7 linked regions of the Homo sapiens genome follow. The protein of the gene in region 6 purifies or fractionates together with the protein of the main gene of each other region. This does not show direct contact. Each region holds a gene or a part of one and is shown on either strand. Other genes may lie near its edges. The genes, in order: PTPRU, ARSB, CNTNAP1, ALG9, MAN2B2, CLGN and ABCA2.

Region 1 (3,500 bases), on a different chromosome or scaffold from region 6:
CTGCTGCCCAGCTCTGGTGTCAGAAAAAACCTAGGGCAAGCATCGTGCTTGATGGAGACAGGCCACCATCCTTCCATGATTTTCATCAGCTCAGCTGGGCATATGGGGTGGCCTTTCCATGCAGGACTGGGTTGGCCAGAGTTGCAGGGGGTACCTTGTGCTCCTCCTTCCTCCCCCTCCCCCCTTTTCCTAGTTGCCCTCCTGCATCCTGGAACGTCCTGTCTGCCCTCTCAGAGACTCTTTCATCTGTCTCCTTCTGTCCGTCCTCAGCTATCTTTCACCTGCAGGAAGACTCCAGCCTCCTCCTTCCCTCTTTCCCTCATGGTGCCAGGGATCTTTGTAAAGTACATTTTAACTCAAAGGGTTTAAAACCCTTTGAAGGCTCCCCATTGCCTTCAGGGTGAAGTCCTTATCCCTTGGCCCTGTTGCTGGCTCTAGCTCCTGCCTGCCTGTCCAGCTGCATCTTGTTTTGTGTCACTGCCCCTTGCATCCTATGATCTGGCCAGCCTGACCTTCTTACCAAAGACCCAAATGCCCACAGCCTGCTGTCTCCTCTCTGGGCCTTTGGGCAAGCCGTGCTTTCTCTGCAGAACTTTCTAACTCCAGCTTTTTGCTGGTGAACTCCTGCAACTTGATGGGCTCTCAGCTGTAAGCATCATCCAGTCCCTGAAGCCTTCCTCGGTGATGCCCTGTCCTAGCCTAGGAAGTCGGGGGGTGGGGGTCAATTGGATTTTTACATAGCATTGTAATTATTGTAATTACAGTTTATTAGTGCTGTCTCCCTTACCAGACTGAGAGCTGAGGACAGAGACTGGGTTTTTAGTTTACTTCTGAATCTTAGTGCCAGGTACAAGGCCTGGCCCACCGGGTCTGAATAAATATATATGGCCTGAAAGAATAAAGTTTAAGGGGGCCAGGTTCAGAGGTGGAGATGCCAGATGGGGGTGCACTGATTCCACTGAAGGTAGAGATTGAAGAACCAGGTTTCCCTCCAGGAATCTGGAAAATTCCTGGAGGGTGGGGGATGGTGTTATGTTGTGAAAAGGCCATGTTGAGAGTGTCATCTGGGAGCTTTGAGTTGGGGAGGTTGAGTCCCTGGCAAGAGACTGAAGGGAACGGGCCTCCTGCCTGCCAGCCCCTCCCCCAGGCTCTGGCCCCACCCCTAGCAGCTGGCAGGGCCCTTCCAGCCCCCAGTCTCAGGCTTTTGTGATGGGGCCTGGCAGTTGGTGAGACGTTGAGTCTCAACGGTCTGTGTGAGTGGCTGGGGAGGAGGGAGGGAGCCCGCAGGGCCCTGTGTTAGGAGAGGGAGGGAAGCTTCCTGGAAGACCCTCCCTTAGTCCTCAGTCCTAGATCCTAGGGTGGGCGGGTGGGGTCACAGCCTCTGTTCTCACCGCTTGTGCACCGGAGGGAAGGGAGGAGAACTGCATCCCGTGGTGGCCCTGGCAGATGGGGTTGGGGAGGCTGGCTGAGGTGTGTGCAGATGTGACTCTAGCATCTGGGCAGTCAGAGTGGGGGGTGTGTAGGGATTGTAACTAGGGGCATGGACACATGTGACCTGTTAGGGTGTCTAGCCATCTGGTTATCGTGTGGTGTGGCAGGATCTGAGTTTGGAGTAGGGAGGTAACCAGCTGCTTTGACCCCTGGGGAGCCTGGTGCTAAGGGTGTCTGGCTATCCAAGTATCACATTCCTGGAGTTGGGTGCAGAGCTATTTGGATGGGTGGTGTCTCGCTATCTAGGTGTGGACAACCCAGTACCAGCATGTGGGAGGATCAGGGTGTGCAGACAGAGGCTATCCCAGCATCCCTGGGGCTGGAGGTGGGTGTATCCATGTGTCTGGGAGTCCTCAGGTTAGTGGGTATTTATAAGTGGGGAGTGTCTCTGTGTTGTGTCCAGGTATGGGGCTGGCCAGGTGCCTGAGTGTCTGGTTGTAGGGGTCCCCAAGTGTCCGGGTATCTGAGGGTGGGGGTATCTGTGTATGAAACAACAGGGACCCAGTCATTGAAGTATCCAGTTGTTAGTGAGTCTGGGTGTGGGGTGCCATGTGTCTATTTTTTTTTTTTCTTCTTCTTCTTCTTCTTCTTCTTTTTTTTGAGATGGAGTCTCACTCTGTCACCCAGGCTGGAGTGCAGTGGCGTGATCTTGGCTCATTGCAACCTCCGCCTCCCGGGTTCAAGTGATTCTCCTGCCTCAGCCTCCTAAGTAGCTGGGATTACAGGCGCACGCCACCATGCCTGGCTAATTTTTGTATTTTTAGTAGAGACTGGGTTTCGTCATGTTGGTCAGGCTGGTCTTGAACTCCTGACATTGTGATCTGCCTGCCTTGGCCTTCCAAAGTGCTGAGATTACAGGCGTGAACCACAGCGCACGGCCTTTTCTTCTTTTTTATTCAGATGGAGTCTCGCTTTGTCACCCAGGCTGGAGTGCAATGGCATGATCTCGGCTCACTGCAACCTTTGCCTCCTGGGTTCAAGCGATTCTCCTGCCTCAGCCTCCCGAATAGCTGGGATTACAGGCACCCGCCACCATGCCTGGCTAATTTTTGTATTTTTAGTAGAGATGGGGTTTCACCATGTTGGCCAGGCTGGTCTTGAACTCCTGACCTCAGGTGATCCACCTGCTTCGGCCTCCCAAAGTGTTGGGATTACAGGTGTGAGCCACTGTGCCTGGCCTCATGTGTCTATTTGTATGTTTAGATGTGGAGGTGCCCTTGTGACCTATGGTGGTGTCCATGTATCCAGGATGTGTCCACAAGGGGTGTGGACGTGTTGGGTGGGAATGTCCTGGTGGCTGTACCCAACTCAACCTCTGGTAGCCCCTTCCCTGGGACTTGCCTCCTGATCGCTCTTCAGACTCCAAAGCCAGAAGCCTTGGAAGGGGCCCCGATAGTTCTGTTTTTCAACGGTCAGCCTAGAGCTGTGTTATCTAATAGAACCTTCTGTGGTGATGGAAATTGTCCTCTACCTGCATTCTCCAATACGGTGGCTCCTGAGTCATGTATGGGTATTACATTTAAATTAATTAAAATAAAAATTCAATCCCTCAGTTGCACTAGTCAGATTTCAAGTCCTCAAGAGTCATATGTTGCTAGTGGCTCTCATTGTACTGGTTAATGCAGGCAGAGAACATTTCCATCCTCTCAGAAAGTTCTGCAGACAGCACTGGTCTAGAGGCATGAGGCGGCCTGCAGCACCTTCAGTGAGTCCTGGGCATCTCTGGGAGGGGAATTGGTCTGGATGGACCATGACTCAGTGGCTCTTGACAAAAGGTTTTGTTCAATCCAGGCCCCTTCTCTGCAGCCTTATTAGATCTTGCCTGGACTATTGCAGTAGCCTGGTAGCCTTCTTGGCCTCTACTCTGCCTGCCATCACGCTCTCGGTTTCTTTTTTTTTTTTTGAGATGGAGTCTCACTCTGTCACCCAGGCTGGAGTGCAGGGGCACCATCTTGGCTCACTGCAACCTCTGCCTCCTGGGTTCAAGCAATTCTTCAGCCTCAGCCTCC
Region 2 (2,602 bases), on a different chromosome or scaffold from region 6:
TAACAAATAGAAAAATGGTATAAGTGACAGTGTACACCTCTAGAGACTAGGTCATGAAAGGCCCTGTGGCTCCCTGTTTATTTGCTCTGGAGGAAGTTAACTGCCATGTGTGAGGACATCCAAGCAGCCTGTGGAGATGCCCACATGGCAAGGAGCTGAGGCCTCCAGCCAAGAGCCTTGTGAGTGAGTCAGCTTAAAAGTGGAGCCTGCAGCCCCACTCAAGTCTTCAGATGACCACAGGCCTGCTTGACAACAATCTCACGAGAGACCCTGAGCCAGAACCACTGGGCTAAACCACTCCCAGTGTCCTTACCCTCATAGAATGTGTGAAGTTATGAATGTTTATTGTTTTAAGCTGCTAAGTTTTGGGGTAATTTGTTACGCAGCAATAGAGAGCTAATACTCTCTTTTACTGTCACTTTGTTTTCACTCCTACCCTTCCTTGACCTCCCTCTAATACCTTATTTTATAGTTTATATTCTTAGGGCAATGATTGACACTTTTTTTAGTTCTAAAATTTTTACTATATTTATTTATTTAACAGCTTTACTGAGATATAATTTATGTACTATAAAGTTGGTTGACACATTTAAAAATTGTAATAAAACATAAAACTTAACATTTTAACCACTTTAAAACATACAATTCAGTGGCAGTAATTGCATTTATGATGTTGTATAACCATGACCACTATCTAGTTCCAGAACTTTCTCCTCACCCCAAATGGAAGCCCCATACATATGGCTGACACATTTTAAAAGATTAATTTTATTTTGTCCCCCAAATCTGGGGGGACAAAAGTAACAAAGAAAAATGAGCTCACAATTAAATAAGCAAAACCTTCTGTAAAGGTAAAAAAATTTGCCGGGCACAGTGGCTCACACCTGTAATCCCAGTGCTTTGGGAAGCTGAAGTGGGTGGATCACTTGAGGTCAGGAGTTTGAGACCAGCCTGGCCAACATGGTGAAACCCTATCTCTACGAAAAATACAAAACATAGCCAGGCGTGGTGGTGTATGCCTGTAATCCAGCTACTTGGGAGGCTGAGGCAGGAGAATAGCTTGAACCTGGGAGTTAGAGGCTGCAGTGAGCCGAGATCACACCACTGCACTCCAGCCTGGGTGACAGAGCGAGACTCCATCTCAAAAAAAAAAAAAAAAAAAATTGGAAAGAAATAACATTATTTCTAACAACAATATATCAATCTTTTCACATTCTTATATAGAATCAGAGAATCTAATGAAATACATTCTATTATGGATAAACCAAAATCTCAAGTACTTGTTTTACAAAAAATTAAGTCTTCAAAACTCTTTTGAAGTCCACTGGGTGCAGAACATCCCCCACTGTGCCTGAAAACCAAGGAACTAGAACTGGAGACAGCTGTTGGGAGGACAGCAGCGATAACAGATAGGTGCCCTGTAGCGATGGCCTCCAACGGCTACCTACACCCAGCCCTGGGATTCGGAGGATGCAGAAGGAACATCTGGGCTCAGCTATTTCATGCTGTCGGCCATACACTTCCAAGTGGGAGGTGATGGCAGTTTGGTCAGCTGTTTGCCAACCCAGGAGTTGGGTAAAGGTTGGTAAGAGATGTTATTAGTTTTAGCACCATTTCCTTCCAATAGTCTCATTTTAATACAATACAGGTTAGTAGTGACCAGAAAATATTGCTACTGAATTGAAGGATGACTATACAAGGACTTATATCAGATTATTTGTTGCTTTTAGTTTCTAGTGTCCCATAAAGTATAGAAATGGAAATTGCTGACAAGAGAGTACCTTTGGTAGGCACAGTTCCTTTTCTCCCCCCACTGGAGAGGACGCTACAACCTTGCTATAGAGTGTCCTGTGACTGCCCAGTGATGTAGATTATGCTCCTACCCCAGGAGGGGCAGCTTGAGAACAGAAAAGCAACAGCTGGAAGACATTTATATTACCTCTGTATTCAGCTCATTGGACTAGCATCTTTCATGGTGTGAGACTTTCTCATTTACTCATTTGTCCATTTATTCATTTGTTTTAAAAAATGAGGCCAGGCATGGTGACTCATGCCTGTAATCCCAGCACTTTTGGAGCCCAAGCTGGGATAATTGCTGGAGCCCAGGAGTTTAAGACCAGCTGGGCAACATAGGGAACCTTGTCTTTTCAAAAAATAAAATTAGCTGGGTGTGGCGGTATATGCCTGTAGTTCCAGCTATTTGGGTGCCTGAGGTGGGAGAATCACTTGAGCCCAGGAGTTTGAGGCTACGGTGAGTTGTGATTGTACCACTGTACTCCAACCTGGTGACAGAGTGAGATCGTCTCATAAAGATATAAAAAATTAAAAATAAAATAAAAATTAAAAAATGAGTGCCTTCAGGCAGTGTTCCAAGCATTGGTGAACACAATGGTGGGGCTAATGCAGAAAAGAGTATCATTTTTGCACACATTTCTCTGGGTTTGACACTCTCTGGAGCTAATATGGACTGTTCCACATTAGTAAGACATTAGTGGGATTGAGAAAGGGCTGCAGGTGTCAAACTGCATCCTCTTTGCCAGACCCCAGAACCTCAAAACAAGCAGTAAAACAGAGAATAAGAGGACTGTGGGTGTGCCCTCCT
Region 3 (4,143 bases), on a different chromosome or scaffold from region 6:
GTATTTTTAGTAGAGATGGGGTTTCACCATGTTGGCCAGGATGGTCTCGAACTCCTGACCTCAGGTGATCCGCCCACCTTGGCCTCCCAAAGTACTGGGATTACAGGCCTGAGCTACCACGCCCAGCCCAAAGTTTGTATTATTAATAAATCCTACAGCTTCAGTTCCCTTTGCAGCGCCCTCTCCTGGAAGGATGCCCATATGCAGGCTTTGCCTCAGACCTGAGCCCTGGACTCCAACCTCCGTCTGGAGTGGGTTTCTGTTTCTCTTCTTTCCCTTCCATACCCACCTTCCCTGTACCTCCAATACCAGCACACTGAACCACTCATGCCAAGGGGGTCTCCAGGGTTGGGACTCAGGTTTTCAGGGCCCAGGTGGGACCCTGGACCTCTAGGTTCAACCCGCCTTTCCCCTCAGCCCTAGTCCCTGTCCCACAACCCCAGCCTCACACCACCAGCCCATTTATCTGGAGGACCCCTAGTCTGAGACAGCGCCAAGAATCCTGAATAAGCCATAGGATGGCAGAGGCCCATTGCCAGGTGGGGAATCCCATTCCTTCCCTGTCTCCTCCCTCTCTGTAACCCTTCTCCCCCTCCCTGCCCCCACTCCCACCTGCTCTGTGGCCTCCGTCCCCATCTCTGGCTACACAGGTTTCTGAGGTATAGCCACAGGGGGTAGAAGTTAAACTACTAGCGGGACAGGAAGGAAGAGGCGGGGAGAGGGGCCGAGAGGGAGGTGGGGATTAGGGTCTACGGGGTCACTTTCCCATTCCACCTCCTCCAAAAGACTTCACTCTCTTGTGCAGGATCTGGATTTTACGAAAAAAAAAAAAAGAAGAAGAAAGGAAGGAAAGAGGAAAGAAAGAAAGAAAGAAAGAAAAAAAGGAAGGAAAGAAAGAAAAAAGAATGAACGAAAGAAAGAAAAAATAATTTACTGTCTTTGTCAGTGAAGAAAGAACGGGCTTCGGAATATAATCATTTGCTGTGTGATATTGACTAAGTTTCTTGACCTCTCTGAGCCTGAGGTTTTTCATCTGCAAAGTGGAGTAGGGCAAAAATGCTAAATTCACAGTGCCCAGCACCACTCCTAGAGCATAATTTGCCTTCCGAAAATGTTAAGATTCTTTTACTTACCCTTCATTCCATTTCCAGGCACCCCTCCCCCAAACCACCTCCCTTTTCTTGAAATTTTCAGGATGCTTCTGGCCCTAGGTTCCCTGTCCTCACTCCTGTGGCCCTAGTCCCGGGCAGCCTCGGGTTACTTGGGGTTTTCCCGGTGGCGAGAGGCTCTCTACCCCCGCCCTTTCGCAGCAGGGCTGAGGCACGCGCTTGCGCGGGGTCCGGGAAACCGGCGCGTGCCAGGAGACAGAGGCTGGGGAAGGGGGGAGGTGAGAGGAAAGAGGGTGGAAAGGAGAGGATAGAGAGAGAAGAGCGGAGGACCAGGAACCAGAGAGAGAGAGAGAGAAAAGAGAGAGGAGAGACAGAGCGCTTGGGGGCGAAAGGAGAGAGGGAGGGAAGGGTGGGTAAGGAGGAGAGAGCGGTCTGCTGCAAACCCCAGGAGGAGAGCTTGGAGCCCAAGCCAGAACTCGAGCCCTAGCCGGAGCCGTTCACAGGGAGGCGGCTGCCGGGACCGTCAGCCCTGCATGATGCATCTCCGGCTCTTCTGCATCCTGCTCGCCGCGGTCTCAGGAGCCGAGGGCTGGGGCTACTGTGAGTGTTGGGCTTGGAGGCAGGTGGGGTTGGGCCCAGGAGTCCAGAGCCTGCAGGGCGGCCCCGAACCGCATTGCGGCTGGGTGGTCGCGGGTCCTTCCCGGCCGGCGCGCGCCCGCTGGCTCTCATCTTTTCCTGCCTCTCCCCCGCGCTCCGCATTGCAGCTCTGAGGCTGCCGCGCGCGCCCGGGGCTGGGGCTGGGCTCTGGGAAGAGGATGAAGTCAGCGGGCAGGGATTTGGGGTTGGGATCCAAGCAGGAGCTGGTGCCTGGGTTTGAGGCTAGGGCTGGGGGATAAGTGTATACTGGTGACCGATACTAGGATTAAGGTTTTGCCAGGGCTTAAGGCTGGACTTTGGAGCTGGCCAAGGGGTGGGGTTTGTGGCTAGGGCTGGGGTTTGTGGCTGGGGCTGGGTTTTGTGGCAGGGATCCAAGCAGGAGCTGGTGCCCCTGACTGATGCTAAGGCTGGACATGGAGCTGGTGATGGTGCTAGCACTGGCTGAGGTTGGGTGCAAGGCCTGTATTTGGGGATGGTGCAGGTTTTGGGGGCCGAGTTGGATTGAGGCTAGGGTTGGAGCTGGATTGGTGTCTTGGGTTGACTTAGGTTGTGGAAGATGCTGAGGTTTAGGATTGAGTTTGGGAAAGTACTAAACCAGGGCAGGTATTGGGCTAGCTAGGGAGGGTCTGGCCTTGGGCCTATAGGTGTAGCCTAGGGGTTTGCCTAGAAGGAGAAGGTAGCCTCCTCTGAGCATGCAGCTGTTGCTGCAGCCAGGATTGAATAGATGGCTTTAAGGTAGGGCTGGGTGTGCCTCTGGGGGCGGGGGTTGGGGGCACGGAAGGGGAAGCTTCGGTCGCTAAGTGGGCCGGCCTTTGGAAGGGTCTGGGAGGGGCCAGCGCTGACTAACAGTCGGTTTCCCTACCCTAGACGGCTGCGACGAGGAGCTGGTGGGTCCCCTGTATGCACGCTCCCTGGGCGCCTCCTCCTACTACAGTCTCCTTACTGCGCCGAGATTCGCCAGGCTGCACGGTGAGCTCCGCGGAACATCAGCTGCCAACTGGCAGCGCACCGCGGAAGGGTGGGGGCCTCCGGAGGACTTCGGGGAGAGGGATAGCCGGTTAAAGCTCCTGTCCTTTCTATAGGCATAAGCGGGTGGTCACCACGGATTGGGGATCCGAATCCCTGGCTCCAGATAGACTTAATGAAGAAGCACCGGATCCGGGCCGTGGCCACACAGGGCTCCTTTAATTCTTGGGACTGGGTCACACGTTACATGCTACTCTACGGCGACCGAGTGGACAGCTGGACACCGTTCTACCAGCGAGGGCACAACTCGGTACTCTGGGCGCCAAGGCGGTAACACTTGGGGAGCTTCCTCTGCTCCAGGCTCTGGGCCGGGCACCAGCCTCTGGGAAAATGGAGGGGGTGGTGGTGAGGGCTCGGACAAGGAGCAGTGACTCCACTCCAGGGACTCTGTCCAGAGGGACTGTCAGCTTAGGACGTGCGCGAAACACTCGGTTCACAGGGTTTAACACACTTTAGGGTAAAACCTGGGAGAGCTTCCTAAGGAGGTGACATTTGATTTCAGGTCTGAGGAAATAATAGGATTGTGGGACAGGGCACTTTATGGAAACTGTGCGGGCAAAGCCGCCAAGCAGGGAAGACCAAGGAGTGTTTACTTTCCAGAAGTCGAGATTGGCTGGGTGTGAAAGTTGTGGGCTGGGAGGCTATGGAGAAAGAAGCAGAGGGGGGCCGGGCGCAGTGGCTCACGCCTGTAATCCCAGCACTTTGGGAGGCCGAGGCAGGTGGATCACGAGGTCAGGAGTTCATGACCAGCCTGGCCAACATGGTGAAACCCCGTCTCTATGAAAAATACAAAAAAATCAGCCGGGCGTAGTGGCGGGCGCCTGTAATCCCAGCTACTTGGGAGGCTGAGGAAGAGAATTGTTTGAACCCGGGAGGCAGAGGTTGCGGTGAGCCGAGATCGTACCACCGCACTCCAGCCTGGGCGACAGAGCGAGACTCTGTCTCAAAAAATAAAATAAAAAAAAGAAGCAGAGGGCAGGACGTGGTTACTACTCTCCTCCACCCCCGCAGACCTTCTTTGGTAACGTGAACGAGTCGGCGGTGGTGCGCCATGACCTGCACTTCCACTTCACTGCGCGCTACATCCGCATCGTGCCCCTGGCCTGGAACCCACGCGGCAAGATCGGCCTGAGGCTCGGCCTCTATGGCTGCCCATACAGTAAGTGTGCAGAGAGCGCGGAGGGGGCCTGGGAGACAGCCTCCCCAGTTCCCGGCCCACCTACGGTCCTTTGCGCAGAGGCCGACATACTCTATTTCGACGGCGACGATGCCATCTCCTACCGCTTCCCGCGAGGGGTCAGCCGAAGCCTGTGGGACGTGTTCGCCTTCAGCTTCAAGACCGAGGAGAAGG
Region 4 (3,500 bases), on a different chromosome or scaffold from region 6:
GCACTTAAGTTTGTGAGCAATTATTTAATAAGTAAAAAAGAATGAGGCAGATACACTTCTCCCTGAAACTCACCTGAAGTGCAGAGAGAGCCACAGCGCCACAGAGACATATAAGTGGATACACAGGGAAAAGAAATCTCTCCTCTTTGTGAGGCTGGATGAAGAAAATTATAAACCAAATATACATTGGAGCCAAGGTAAGCCAATACGGGTGGCCTAAATTCTGAACTGCAAGACACAGAAAAATACCCATCTTTCATTATATTAGAACAAAACAACATATTTAGTTTTAGTGTTATCTTGATCTCAAATTTAGGAGTATGCCCTAGGACACTCCATAGAATGTTTCTACTCTTGTATTCACACTTTCTCCAATGCCATAAAGGCATCAAAAGGAGAGAAGAATATACTCCTTAGCTCTCCCAAGAGATCTAAACTCTAACAACAAGCACAATACTAGATTTGGTTAGGACACATATAAATGTCAAGTTAATGGCTAATAGAACTTAATAAATTCTACGTTAGATGAAGGAAAAATAAGCCGTCTCCTTTAATGAGTCCTGCCACTAAGACGAAAAGTTCCTGAGTTTAACCAAAAGCATAACATAAATTCATTTCTGGGGTTTTAATTCCAATGTTCTGTTTAATTGGTGTCTCTTATCTATACACCAATCAGTCTGTTCAAATAGCCATGGATCAAAGGAAAACAAAATTGTTGGATTCTCAAATTCATTACTGGTTTTCATCAAGCCACAAATGACGGAGTTTGTTTCAAGGCAAACATAAAAATGCTCTTAAAGGAAGTTCAGTGATTGTTTTCTCTCCATTTTGCAATACTCATCCACTCCGGATCCCCAAATTGGAACAAAAATGTACTTAAAGCATGTGAAAGAATTAAAGGAATGTAATGAACACTAAAACCCAAGAACCTGCTGGAAAGTTCCCGTGGTTAGGTACATGAGAAATGAGAGATAAGCCTGCAACCCACAGTGAAGGCATCTCCTACTGCGTTTACAGGAGTGATAATGAGCAACGCAAATGCGGGCAAATGGTAGATAGACAGCGCCCCCTGGTGTCCACCATGTTAACAGTAAGCCAGTTTACAAGATCAGGATTATCGTCAAGATCCACTTTAGCTATGCCTAATTTAGCATTCCTAGGCTATCACTTTCACTGTAGAAATTCTTTAAGGATAAAAATTCTTGAACTACAATAACAAGATTTTGTTTCAACTTTTGCTCTAAGACATTATGGGATTTTAGATAATAATTTAGAATATATACCTTTCTAGGTAGTATATTTTAAGGGGGAGGTTTTTTGTTTTTTGTTTTCTGAGACGGAGTCTCTCTCTGTCACCCAAGCTGAAGTGCAGTGGCACAATCTCGGCTCACTGCAACCTCTACCTCCCAGGTTCGAATGATTCTCCTGCCTCAGCCTCCTTAGTAGCTGGGATTACAGGCATGCATCAACACACCAGGCTAACTGTTGTATTTTTAGTGGAGATGGGGTTTCACAGTGTTGGTCATGCTGGTCTTGAACTTCTGACCTCAGGTGATCCACCCGCCTCGGCCTCTCAAAGTGCTGGGATTACAGGCGTGAGCCACTGTGCCTGGCCTAAGGTGGGGTTTTTTAATTAGAAGAAAATAAATCCACTTATTGTCCACAAGTAAACAGTCCTTTTCTCTTCTGTACCTTAAAGGCTAACGAGTAATCTTTTTTTAATAAGGCAAAAAATTTTGAAATGTCCTCCATAAAATATACAAAATCACAACCACAGCTAGATATGATGAAATCAAGAGTAATTTCTTTCCTGCTTCTTAATAATTTTCTATGGTTTGGGGGACTTTTTTTTTCTCTTGAGACAGGGTCTCGCTCTGTCACCCAGGCTGGAGCATAGTGGCACAACCATGGCTCACTGTAGCCTTGACCTCCTAGGCTTAAGCAATCCTCCCACCTCAGCCTCCCAAGTAGCTGGGACTACAGGTGTGCATCGCCATGCCCGGTTAATTTTTTAATTTTTTTCGTAGTGACAGGGTCTTGCTATCTCACCCAGGCTGGTCTTGAACTCCTGGGTTCAAGCAATCCTCCCACCTCGTGCTCCCAAAATACTGGGATTATAGGCATGAGCCACTGTGCCTGGTCTTTTTTCTCTTAAAAAAGTATTGGTTCTATTCTAAAATCACATAAAAATATAAAGAAAAAAACAGAAAATGTTTTCTTACTAGGTAGATATGTGCATACATTATGCATTTTAAACCAATATTTTATACTTAAAATTTTATCATACTGTAGAGAACAGCTTAATATCCTGTTTTTTTACTGACGTTACAAGCATTTCCAAATTTTCCACAAGCATAAATAATTATTATTGTTGTTTTTAAAAACAGAGACACAGGTCTCACTATGTTGCCCAGAGTGGTCTCGAACTCCTGGGCTCAAGCAATCCTCCCACCGTAGCCTCCCGGGCAGCTGGAACTATATGCACGTGCCACTGCTCCCAGCTATCATAAATTATTTTTATAGTCAGAAAAATAGCTATTTTCAAAAAAAGAAAAAGTGATCCTTAAGAAATAGAAGGGATAGAGGAATAAGTTAACACCTCAAGGGAGCAAACAGCTGAGTCTAAAATGTGGGACATTATGCAAGATGATGGCCTGGTTTCTTTAAAGAAATCTTCGAAAGAAAAAAAGTAAGATGGGGGTCTTCTTAAAAAGCTTAAGAAATATAACACTAAATTCAGTACGTGACCCTTGTTGAGATTCTGCTTTAAACTAACTATAAAAGGCTATTTTTCAGACAATCTAGGAAATCAATGGGTATTAGATGATATTAAGAAATTACTGATAATTTTATTAGGATAATGGCATTATGGCTACGTTGAAACAAAAGTCCTAACACCAAAGAAAAGTGACTCTGAAGGCTGCTCTAATATTCTTATAATACAACGAACTCATTATAAACCATTAATAGTAGAAAAGCAGAATGGAGGTGGGATGGGGGAACTGATCATATGGCATCCAAATCAGACTGCAAAGTCTGAAATTAAATCTTTTTCCAAACCTCATATGAATTTCTGTTCAAATCTGTCTTCCATAAAAGAAATGAGAGGCACTAGATATCCAGAGCCACGACAACTTGAGAAAACACCAGCTGTGCACTACAGAATCAGAGCAAGCAAAGCAAACGACAAACCAAACTTTCTCCAATAAGGCAGACACAGAAACAAAAAGGAACAAAGAAAAGCATCATGCTTCTGAGGAAGTCCAAAGCTTCCCTTACTTCACTATCAAATTTGGGGAAATCCCTGTATGGTTCAGATTTTATACTTTCGTTTGAAGTACTATCTCGTGGATTACCTTAAGCAACCTATCAGGTTAATATACACTTCTTTAAAAGATAGAAAACTCAAATAGGCTTGTTCTCTTCTGAGATTTTTTTTGAGATGGAGTTTTGCTCTTGTCGCTCAGCTGGAGTGCAGCGGCGCAGGGTCTTGGCTCACT
Region 5 (3,500 bases), about 130 Mb from region 6:
TCAAATACCACCTGAGGGCTGCATGATTTCTAGGTGGTGGGAACACAGTGTGGACCAGGACAGACAGTGCCCTGCTTTTATAGAGTAAGCAAGGGTGGGGAGTTTTATGCAGGGCGTGTGTGGCGCTGTAGGTGTGTTCCCCACAGACCCAGCCATGCTCAGGAGCCGTAACTGGCTTTTTTCTCTCTGCCTGCCCATGTCAAGGTCCGCCAGCTCCTGGAGGAAGGACGCCTGGAATTTGTCATCGGAGGCCAGGTCATGCATGACGAGGCTGTGACGCACCTTGATGACCAGATCCTGCAGCTCACAGGTTTGGCCACCCTACCCTGCACCCAGGGTCCCTCAGGACCTCCAGTGGGGCTGGGACATGGTATCAGAACCCCCAGGTTCTGAGCTCTGTCTGCCCCTCTTAGTGGGGTCGGGGACCTTAACCAGTGAAAGCAGTGATTTGCTAGTGCCATATTCATGCCTCACCAAGGAAGTTGAATGTAGGGGTTAAGAGCATGGATGCTAGAGTCAGATGGTCTCAATATATCCTGGCTCTGCCAATTCCCTCCTCTGTGACCCTGGAAAGGAATGTAACTTCAGTTTCCTCATAGATAAAATGAGTTTGATGGTAATACCTACCTCAAAGGGTTGTTGTGAGTATTAAATGGGATAATTCAAATAAAGCACTTTAGTAGGATGTGGGTTCCCTAGTAAATGCTCAGTAAGTGTTTGCTGCCTTCCATCACAATTACCACCTTCAGCACCATAATGACCATGACTACTACCATCACCACCACCACCACGATGACCATCACTACCACTACCATCACCACCACCACCACCATCACCATCACCACTACCACCATCACCACCATCACCACCACCATCACCATCACCACCACCACCACCATCACCATCACCAGCACCACCACCATCACCATCACCACTACCACCACCACCACCATCACCACCACCATCACCATCACCACCACCACCACCACCATCACCATCACCAGCACCACCACCATCACCATCACCACCACCACCACCACCATCACCACCACCACCCTTCACCACCATCACCACCACCACCATCACCACCACCATCACCATCACCACCACCATCACCACCACCACCACCATCACCACCACCACCACCACCACCATCACCATCACCACCACCATCACCATCACCACCACCACCACTACCCTTCACCATCACCACCACCACCATCACCATCACCACCACCATCACCACCACCCTTCACCATCACCACCACCCTTCACCACCACAATGACCATCACTACCACTACCATCACCACCACCATCATAACTACCATCACCACCACCCTTCACCACTGCTATGACCACCACTACCACTACCATTACTACCACTACCATCACCACCATCACCACTACCACCATCATCTTCACCACTACAATGACCATTACTACCACTACCATCACCACCACCCCCTAAACACTATCACCATGATCACCACCCATCACTGTCGCCACCACCATCACCACATCCATTACTACCATCCCCTCCACAATCATCATCACCACCACCATGACCATCTCCCTCACCATTGTGTCCACTGTCCTCAGCACCATCACCCACAGTGCCGTGGGGCACTCTACTCACCATTTACCAAATGCCTTTCACAGTGACACCCCAGCCAATCCTAATGGCGGGCTGATGGTGAGGCATGGTGATGCCCAGTTTCATTTTGCAGATGTAGAAACTGAGATCCAAAGAAATGCAGTAACTCTCTCCAGGGTAGATGGCCAGGACTTGAGTCCAGGCCTAGGGACTGAAGCTCCGAGTCCACAGTCACTCCACTACAGCATGGGCCCTGATTTCCCCATTTGTAAAACATCCAGGCAGAGAGCAATGTTGTCAAAGGATGTTTTTGGCACTCTCCCTTTTCTCATCTGTAATCTGGAGTGTTCCCCTGTCTCAGTTTCTTACTGCCTTACATCTGGACTTTGCTCAAACCCTAGACTTGCCCTTCCATGAGAAGGAGGCGTGATGGACACAGCCCTACAGACAGAGCTCCTCCTGTGGCCAGGAGCTCAGCCCCTGCTTGTCCCCCTGCATCCCCACAGGCCCAGAGGTAACAGGGGAGGACAGCAAGGCTCAGAGGGAGCACCTTGCCCTCAGCCGCCTGCTGTGGCTCCCTGACTCCAGAGCCCCTGCTCTTTCACTCCCCCATGTGAAGTGTGGGCAAGGGATCTATCCCAACAGACTTCCCCCACACCCCTTCACAAGCCCACTGCCAGGGAATGTGTGACACTGTAGGCGTGTCCCCCACCTGCCTCCTGCCCCGTGCCAGCGAGGAGGCTCTGGGGCTGTTTCTCACCTGTGCCATTTCACGCAGTGCTCCCCCTCATTCTCCACCCTCCTCCTCAAGATGCAGCTGAGAAGCCCCTCCCGCAGGAAATCTCTGAGTCTCTGCAGTTCTGTGTCACCTCCCCACTTAACCGCTGAACCTCAAGATGCCCCTGGCAGGGACCCCCATCTGACTCATCTCAGCACCCAGCATAGGGTCTGGCCCAGACCACTGCTTACTGGGCAAGGCTGGGCAAGGGGTGGGCGCTGAACTGCCCTGCCCTGAGGGTACCCACCACTGGGGTACCTCGCCTCTGGCCTCAGCCCACCGTGCCTAAGTGCTGATACCCCAGCGCTGACCCTGCAGGTCTGACCTGGCAACTGGAAGCCTCAGGGAAGCTGAGGCTGTGTCGCTCTGGGGCAGGAAGAGCCTCCAGAGACACAAGAGACAGCGGCTGTTGTGAGGCTCCATTTCCAAACCTGTCCAAGCTCATGGGGCCCTCAGGGTACAGACATGTGGGTTTCTTTCATGATAACCACCTTGTTCTAGGTACAAGATGTACACGTATTTTTTTTTCAGTCCTCAGGGCAATCTGGTAGATGGGTAATCTTACAAATGCTTATTTGTAGAGAAGTTTGAGGCTCAAATGCTATCCAAATGTGCCCACCACCAGCTAAGTGATGGGACCCAGATCCAACCCTAGCCCGGCCGAGTCAGGAAGGTTACTTGTGGCTGAGCCCCTCTCACTGGCGGCTGAGCCAAGCCCTTTCCCATCTGCTATCTCTTAGTTGCCTCAGAACAGCCTGGTAGCAAGTGGTACTGTTCACAGCCCCATTTGACAGATGAGGAAACTGAGGTACTGAGAGATGCGGGATTTATATATATGCAGTAGGTAACAGAACTGGCGCTCAAGCCCATGTGTGCCTGGCCTGGGCTCTTTCCTTAACTTGTAGTCCCTAGGGCGGGGGCAGAGTGTGTGTATCAGACCACCCATCTCAGATGTCCCAGGCATTCTGGCTGTGAATTATGTCCACATTGGGCTGGTTTTCTCAGATATGTTGGGGTAAGAGGGGCTGGATCACCCCTCACTGCTTCCGGGCCCTTTATCCTCCATCTCACCTTGGTGGAGCCCCTGCCTCGAGGCAGGCCCTGGACAGCAAAGGAAGACAGGAGCA
Region 6 (3,500 bases):
AAGAGGGTGACATTAGCACTAAATGTTCTACCCTATACCATATAAACAAATTCTTGCTGTACTAAAATTATATAACTTAAACAACCATACAGATCAATAAAGAAATAGATAACACCACAAGCCAACTAAACATAATAAACATATGGACAACACTGTACCCAACAATAGCAGAACACACATTTTTCTTAACTGCACATAGAACATTCTCCAGGATAGACCATATTAGACCACAAAACAAGTCTTAATGAATTTTAAAAGATTGAAATCATACAAAGTAAGTTTTCTGAACACAAAGGAAAGGAACTAGAAATCAATAGTAGAAGGAAAACAAGAAAAATTCACAAATATGTGGAAATTAAACAGCACACTCTTGAACAATGAGCCAAATAAGTCTCAAGAAAAGTTAGAAAAACATCTTGAGACAAATGAAAAGGAGAACAAAAGATACCAAAACTTATGGGATACAGTGAAAGCAGTGTTAAAAGGGAAATTTATAGCTTTAAGCACTTACATGAAAAACAAAAGATCTCAAGTTAACAACCTAACTTACACCTTGAGGAACTAGAAAAAGAGCAAATGAAACCCAAAAGTTAGAAGAAAGAGGGAAATAATAAAGATTAGAGCAGAGAGAAACAAAATAGAAAATAGAAAAACAAGAGAGAAAACAAGTGAAATCAAGAGTTAATTCTTCGAAAAGGTCAACAAAAAAATTAACAAACCTTTAGTTAGATTAAGAAAAATGAGAGAAGACTCAAATAACTAAAATTGGTAATGAAAGGACATTACATCTGATTCTACAGAAATAAGAGGGATTATAAGAGAATACGCTGAAGGATTGTATGGCAACAAATTGGATAACCTAGATTAAATGGATACATTCTTAGAAACACACACTCTATCAAGATTAATCATGAAGAAGTAGAAAATCTGAACAGACCTGTAACTGGTAAGGAGATTGAATCAGTAAACAAAAACTTCCCAGCAGATAAAAGCCCAGGACTAGGTGGCTTCACTGGTGAGTTCTACCAAACATTGAAAGAATTAACACCAGTCCTCCTCAAATTCTTCCGAAATATTGAAGAGGAGTAAACACTTCCAGATTCATTCTATGAAGCCAGCATAACCCTGTTATCAAAGCCAAAGACACTACAAGAAAACTACAGAGCAATATTCCAGATGATTATTGATGCAGAAATTCTTAACAAAATACTTGACAACAAAATTCAGCTGCATATTAAAAGAGTTATATACTATGACCATGTTGGATTTATTCCTAAAATTCAAGGATGATTCAACATAAGAAAATCAGTGTACCATGCCACATTTACAATGTAGGGAGGGGAGAACACATGATCATCTTTATTCATGCAGAAAAAGCATTTGACATGATTCAACACTCTTTCATAATAAAAAACACTCAGTACACTAGGAATAGAAGGAAACCACCTCAACATAGTAAAGGTCATATATGAAAAGCCCACAGTTAACATCAGACTAAATGGTGAAAGACTGAAAGCTTTTCCTTTAAGATCTAGAATAAGACAAGGATGCCTGCTTTTTCCACTTCTCCCGAGCCAGAGAAATTAGGGAAGAAAAAGAAAGAAAAAAGACATTCAAATTGAAAAGGAAGAAGTAAAATTATCTCAGCAGATAACATGATCTTATATGTATGTACAAAACCCTAAAGATTTCACGAACACAATACAAAAGTCTGTTAGAAATAATAAATGAAGGCCAGGCATGGTGGCTCATGCCTGTAGTCCCAGCAATTTTGGAGGCCAAGGTAGCCAGATCAGTTGAGTCTAGGAGTTTAAGACCAGCCTGCGCAACATGGCAAAAACCATCTCTACAGAAAAATACAGAACATTAGCTGGGCATGGTGATGCTTGCCTGTAGTCCCAGCTACTCGAGAGGCTGAAGTGGAGGATCACCTGAGTCCAGGAGTTCAAGGCTGCAATGGGCCATGATGGTGCCACTGCACTCCAGCCTGGGTAACAGAGTGAGATCCCATCTCAAAAAACAAACAAATGAATTCACTAAAGTTGCAGGGTAAAAAAACTAGCACACAAAAATTAGTTGCACTTCTGTATACTAACAATGAACAGGAAATTAAGAAAACAATTCCATTTATAACAACATAAAAAAGAATAAAATACTTAGGAATAAATCAAGGAAGTAAAATACTTGTACATGAAAAATTATGAAATGCTGCTGAAAGAAATTAAGAAACAAATATTAATCAATGGAAAGACATTGTGTTCATTGGGATTGGAAGACTTAATAAGATGGAAACACAACCCAAAGTAATCTACAGATTCAGTGCAATCCCTGTCATAATCCTAATAGCACTTTTTGCAAGAATAGTAAAATTCATATAGAATCTCAAGGGACCCCAAATAGCCAGAACAATCTTGGGAAAGAATAAGTTTGGAAATCTCACATCTCTGTTTCAAAACTTATTACAAAGCTATAGTAATCAAATCAGTGTGAGACTGGCATAAAGACAGACATATATATCAATGGGATACAATAAAGAGCCTAGTAATAAATTCCCACATATATGTTCAAATTTTTTTTATAAAAGTGCCAAGACCATTTTGTGAGAAAGGACAGTCTTCTCATGAGATGATATTGGGGAAACTGGCTATCCACATGCAAAAGAATGAGGTTGTAACCTTACCTTAAATCATAGACAAAAATTAACTCGAAATGGATTGAAGACTTAAACATAAGAAAACTATAAAACTGTTAAAAGAAAACATGGAAAGCTTCATGACATTGAATTTGCCAGTAATTTTTATATGACACCAAAAGCACAGACAACAAAAGAAAAAATATATAAATTGGAAAACTCAAAATTAAAAAGTTCTGTGCATCAAAGAACACAACAAAATGAAAAACCTATGCAATGGGAGAAAATATTTGCCAATCATATATTTGATAAGGGGTCAGTATCCAGAATTTGTAGGAACTCCTACAACTCAAAACAAAAACAAAACCTGATTTTTTAAATAGGCAAAGGACTTGAATAGACATGTTTCCCTTGAAGATGTATAAATAGCCAACAAGCACATGAAAAGATACTCAGTATCACTAATCATCAGGGAAATGCAAATCAAACCACAATATGATACTACGCCATATTAGGACCTATTACAATGACTACTATTTAAAAAAACATAATTTTGAACAAATGTTGGCAAGGATGTGTAGAAATTGGAACCCTTGTGCCTTGTTGGTGGGAAGGTAAAATGGTAAAGCCACTGTGGAAAACAGTATGAGGATTCAAAAAAAAATAGAATTATCATATGACCAAGCAATTCAACTTATGGGTATATACTCAAAAGAATTGAAAACAAGGTCTCGAAGAGTTATTTGTATACCCATATTCATTGTAGGATTATTCACAACAGCCAACAGGTGGAAGCAACCCAAGTGTCCACTGACAGATGAATGTATAAACAAAATGTGGTGTATACACACAATGGAATACTGTCCAG
Region 7 (3,500 bases), on a different chromosome or scaffold from region 6:
GAAGTGAGCAAAGCACCTCTTTCTCACTCCACGCAGGTCCCACTAGGGCTCACCTTGGTGCCCAGCCTGGGTTAGCAGGAGCCGACCTGGGGAAACTGAGCTCCAAGGCCCAAGACTGGCTGCCCCGGGTCAGGAGAGGGGACAGGGCAGAAAGAGGTGCCTTTGGGCCAGGTGTGGTGGCTCACGCCCAGGTGGGCGGATCACGAGGTCAGGAGATCGACACCATCCTGGCTAACACGGTGAAACCCCGTCTCTACTAAAAATACAAAAAATTAGCTGGGCATGGTGGCGGGCGCCTGTAGTCCCAGCTACTCGAGAGGCTGAGGCAAGAGAATGGTGTGAACTTGGGGGACGGAGCTTGCAGTGAGCTGAGATCGCACCACTGTGCTCCAGCCTGGGTGACAGAGTGAGACTCCGTCTCAAAAAAAAAAAAAAAAAAAGGTGCCTTTGCTTCAGGGACTGGGGCTGTTAGACCCCTTACCAGGTCTTCTCCGAGGCTCAGGGCCCTGGGCGCAGGCCAAGCCTCTCAACCAGGCCTCCTCATCTCCCCAGGCCCCGGTATTGGTGGGGAGGAAGTGGGAGGAAGGTGAACCCGGGGCAGTGTGGGAAGTGTAGGCGGGGCTAGTGGCTCAGATGGTCCCCAAGATTTTGCCCAGGTAGCCCTGGAGGTGGGGAGGGAGAAGATGAGCTGGGATATACATGGGTCAGAGTAGACCACAAGCTGGCCGATTTGTCCCTGTAGGCCCTGAGGCTCCTCAGAGGGCACGTAGGCCCAGTGTGGGCTGGGGACGGGAAACCTGATTTGCTGAGCCAGACAATCCTTACCCTCAGTGCCCTGGAAGGGGCTCAGACCTTCAGTGGTTCCGAAGGGCCTGTGCCCACCTTCCCTGGCCCCAGGGAGCACGTGGTCCTGTCTGGGCTGGGCCAGCCCTATGGGAGGCTGGGGAGGGCCTAGGCGAGCACAGGTCTGTCCTATCCCTCACTGGGCCCACCCTTTCCAGTGGGTCCTGGCCTTCGAGATCTTCATCCCCCTGGTGCTGTTCTTTATCCTGCTGGGGCTGCGACAGAAGAAGCCCACCATCTCCGTGAAGGAAGGTGAGTGCGGCAGGAGGCCCCAGGCACAGCCGGGGGAGCGCGGCACCTCGCACGCCTGCGCTGTGTGTGCACATCTGCACACGGGTGTCCTGCTCCCGGAGTCCCTGAGGTGCGGTGCCTGCTCCCCTGTGTGGTCCTGGGCCGTGCCTCCTGGCTGGGCTGTGGAGGTCGGGGCTGGCCTGTGGCCGCGAATGATGATGCCAACGCCTCTTCCTGGTGATGTGGGCACTCACTGGTCTCCTCTGTTCTGTTTTGATCCCCCTCCCTCCCCGCATGGTCTCTTGTCCTCGGCTGGCATGCAGTCTGTAAGTGAGCGGCCACCTCCTCCTGGCTGGCCTGGGCAGCAGCTGCGGGGGGCCCATGGGCCGTCCTGGCTTGAGCGCCCTCCCCGCTTGCATTAACAGCCCTCCCGGGCCCCCTGCCGGCCTCAGGAACAGCTGGCTCCAGATGGGGGGTGGCAGGCAGTGAAGTGGGAGGTGGTAGGGAGTGAAAGGCCCGGCCACCTAAAGGCACAGCTGGTGCCTGGGTCAAGCTGAGGCGGCATCTCTCTGCCTGGCCTTGCCTTCTAGGGCTGGGGTGCCTCGGCTTCTGGGCTGAGTCTGGGCTGAGGCTGGGCTGGCCTGGGCTGGGGCTGGAGCGGCCTGGCTACTCTCCCTTCATACTCCTTCAGGCTCTTGCACTCACTCTGCTAACCAGCTGGCCAGAGGTCAGAGGTCACTGCCCAGAGGGGGTCCTTTGTCCTCCCCTGGGCTCTGTAGGCAGTGCCACACCTGAAACGTTTTCGGGGGGAGAGTGCCAGGGCATGTGGGCCTGCACTGGCTGAAAGGAAAGGAATGCTCTGGGAGTTATGGCAGAAGGGGTGGTGAGTGGCTCTTTGACCTCTGACCTGCTGGAGTCATTCGCCCCAGAACGCTTGGCCTGTAGCCCAGCTGGGGCCAGGGCTCTGTGCCGCCTTCTCCCTAACGCTGCTTCTCCTTCCTGACTTTCTCTAAATTTCTCCTCTCGGCCTCTGTCTCCCTCCCCTTCTGGATTCCTCTCTCTCTCTCTCCCCTTTCACCCCCGACCCTGCCCTCTCCCGTGGGTCTGCCAGCCTTCTACACAGCGGCGCCCCTGACGTCTGCCGGCATCCTGCCTGTCATGCAATCGCTGTGCCCGGACGGCCAGCGAGACGAGTTCGGCTTCCTGCAGTACGCCAACTCCACGTGAGTGCCCACCCGCCCCTCGGAGCACCCACCCCTCCCCAGCCCATCCAGTGAGTGACATCCGCCATGGTGCAGGGTCACGCAGCTGCTTGAGCGCCTGGACCGCGTGGTGGAGGAAGGCAACCTGTTTGACCCAGCGCGGCCCAGCCTGGGCTCAGAGCTCGAGGCCCTACGCCAGCATCTGGAGGCCCTCAGTGCGGGCCCGGGCACCTCGGGGAGCCACCTGGACAGATCCACAGGTGTGCCCTGTGCAGGGAAGTTGGGGGGCAGGGCTGCGGGCAAAGCTCTGCTGTCACTGGGCTGAAGCCCACATCCACTCTGGGCCCCTCCACCTGCACTGAGTTCCCAGCCACGCACAGGCTGCAGTGGCAGAGCTGTGGTGTTGGGCTCGGCTCCGAGCGCATGTGGGGGCACCTTGCCAAGGTGCAGCGGCCTCTCAGCCTCGCCTTCCTGCCTGTCCAGTGTCTTCCTTCTCTCTGGACTCGGTGGCCAGAAACCCGCAGGAGCTCTGGCGTTTCCTGACGCAAAACTTGTCGCTGCCCAATAGCACGGCCCAAGCACTCTTGGCCGCCCGTGTGGACCCGCCCGAGGTAAGGCAGGGACAGCTCCCAGCCCTGGCCACTCCCTTCTGCCCCAGCCACGCCCCCTGGTTGCTGAGCCATCCTCAGGATGCTCAGCCTGAGTCACGCCCAGACCGTCTGAACCTTGCCCCCACCATCTGAGCCACGCCCCCACTCTCTGAGCCATGCCCCCACCATCTGAGCCACGCCCCCACACCTACATCGGAGCCACGCCCCCACCATCTGAGCCACGCCCCCACTCTCTGAGCCACGCCCCCACCATCTAAGCCACGCCCCCACACGTCCATCGGAGCCACGCCCCCACCATCTGAGCCACGCCCCCCACACCCCATCTGAGCCATTCCCCCACACCTCCTAGGTCTACCACCTGCTCTTTGGTCCCTCATCTGCCCTGGATTCACAGTCTGGCCTCCACAAGGGTCAGGAGCCCTGGAGCCGCCTAGGGGGCAATCCCCTGTTCCGGATGGAGGTGAGGGCATCCATGTGTGGGATGGGCCTGGAGTGCTGCCTGCCTCTGGGGGTGCTTCTGCTCCGTGGGTGAGGAAAGGGCCCCTTTGGTGACTTGGAGCTCCTCCTGGGAGAGGGGGAGGGTCCCAGGGGTCTATGGCAGGCATGAGGGGTA

What was found.
Region 1: the proteins of CLGN (region 6) and PTPRU purify together in Homo sapiens (affinity purification with mass spectrometry; 3 studies listed by BioGRID and IntAct, with this or other methods). This does not show direct contact.
Region 2: the proteins of CLGN (region 6) and ARSB purify together in Homo sapiens (co-immunoprecipitation; 2 studies listed by BioGRID and IntAct, with this or other methods). This does not show direct contact.
Region 3: the proteins of CLGN (region 6) and CNTNAP1 purify together in Homo sapiens (co-immunoprecipitation; 2 studies listed by BioGRID and IntAct, with this or other methods). This does not show direct contact.
Region 4: the proteins of CLGN (region 6) and ALG9 purify together in Homo sapiens (co-immunoprecipitation; 2 studies listed by BioGRID and IntAct, with this or other methods). This does not show direct contact.
Region 5: the proteins of CLGN (region 6) and MAN2B2 purify together in Homo sapiens (co-immunoprecipitation; 2 studies listed by BioGRID and IntAct, with this or other methods). This does not show direct contact.
Region 7: the proteins of CLGN (region 6) and ABCA2 purify together in Homo sapiens (co-immunoprecipitation; 2 studies listed by BioGRID and IntAct, with this or other methods). This does not show direct contact.

Annotation. Positions count from the first base shown.
Region 1 is NC_000001.11:29,239,522-29,243,021, forward strand, and holds part of PTPRU (receptor-type tyrosine-protein phosphatase U isoform 1 precursor), read left to right. Parts: intron 1-3,500.
Region 2 is NC_000005.10:78,776,709-78,779,310, forward strand, and holds the end of ARSB (arylsulfatase B isoform 1 precursor), read right to left. Parts: 3' UTR 501-2,602; downstream 1-500. UniProt on the Homo sapiens protein: Removes sulfate groups from chondroitin-4-sulfate (C4S) and regulates its degradation. Involved in the regulation of cell adhesion, cell migration and invasion in colonic epithelium.
Region 3 is NC_000017.11:42,681,188-42,685,330, forward strand, and holds the start of CNTNAP1 (contactin-associated protein 1 precursor), read left to right. Parts: upstream 1-1,343; 5' UTR 1,344-1,642; coding exon 1,643-1,709; intron 1,710-2,633; coding exon 2,634-2,735; intron 2,736-2,848; coding exon 2,849-3,042; intron 3,043-3,803; coding exon 3,804-3,951; intron 3,952-4,029; coding exon 4,030-4,143. Other genes in the region: CCR10 (C-C chemokine receptor type 10), read right to left, coding at 613-636. UniProt on the Homo sapiens protein: Required, with CNTNAP2, for radial and longitudinal organization of myelinated axons. Plays a role in the formation of functional distinct domains critical for saltatory conduction of nerve impulses in myelinated nerve fibers.
Region 4 is NC_000011.10:111,840,582-111,844,081, forward strand, and holds part of ALG9 (alpha-1,2-mannosyltransferase ALG9), read right to left. Parts: intron 229-3,500; coding exon 74-228; intron 1-73. UniProt on the Homo sapiens protein: Mannosyltransferase that operates in the biosynthetic pathway of dolichol-linked oligosaccharides, the glycan precursors employed in protein asparagine (N)-glycosylation.
Region 5 is NC_000004.12:6,578,189-6,581,688, forward strand, and holds part of MAN2B2 (epididymis-specific alpha-mannosidase isoform 1 precursor), read left to right. Parts: intron 1-204; coding exon 205-310; intron 311-3,500.
Region 6 is NC_000004.12:140,421,149-140,424,648, reverse strand, and holds part of CLGN (calmegin precursor), read left to right. Parts: intron 1-3,500. UniProt on the Homo sapiens protein: Functions during spermatogenesis as a chaperone for a range of client proteins that are important for sperm adhesion onto the egg zona pellucida and for subsequent penetration of the zona pellucida.
Region 7 is NC_000009.12:137,021,738-137,025,237, reverse strand, and holds part of ABCA2 (ATP-binding cassette sub-family A member 2), read left to right. Parts: intron 1-1,001; coding exon 1,002-1,095; intron 1,096-1,397; coding exon 1,398-1,400; intron 1,401-2,185; coding exon 2,186-2,297; intron 2,298-2,372; coding exon 2,373-2,536; intron 2,537-2,759; coding exon 2,760-2,887; intron 2,888-3,236; coding exon 3,237-3,347; intron 3,348-3,500. UniProt on the Homo sapiens protein: Probable lipid transporter that modulates cholesterol sequestration in the late endosome/lysosome by regulating the intracellular sphingolipid metabolism, in turn participates in cholesterol homeostasis.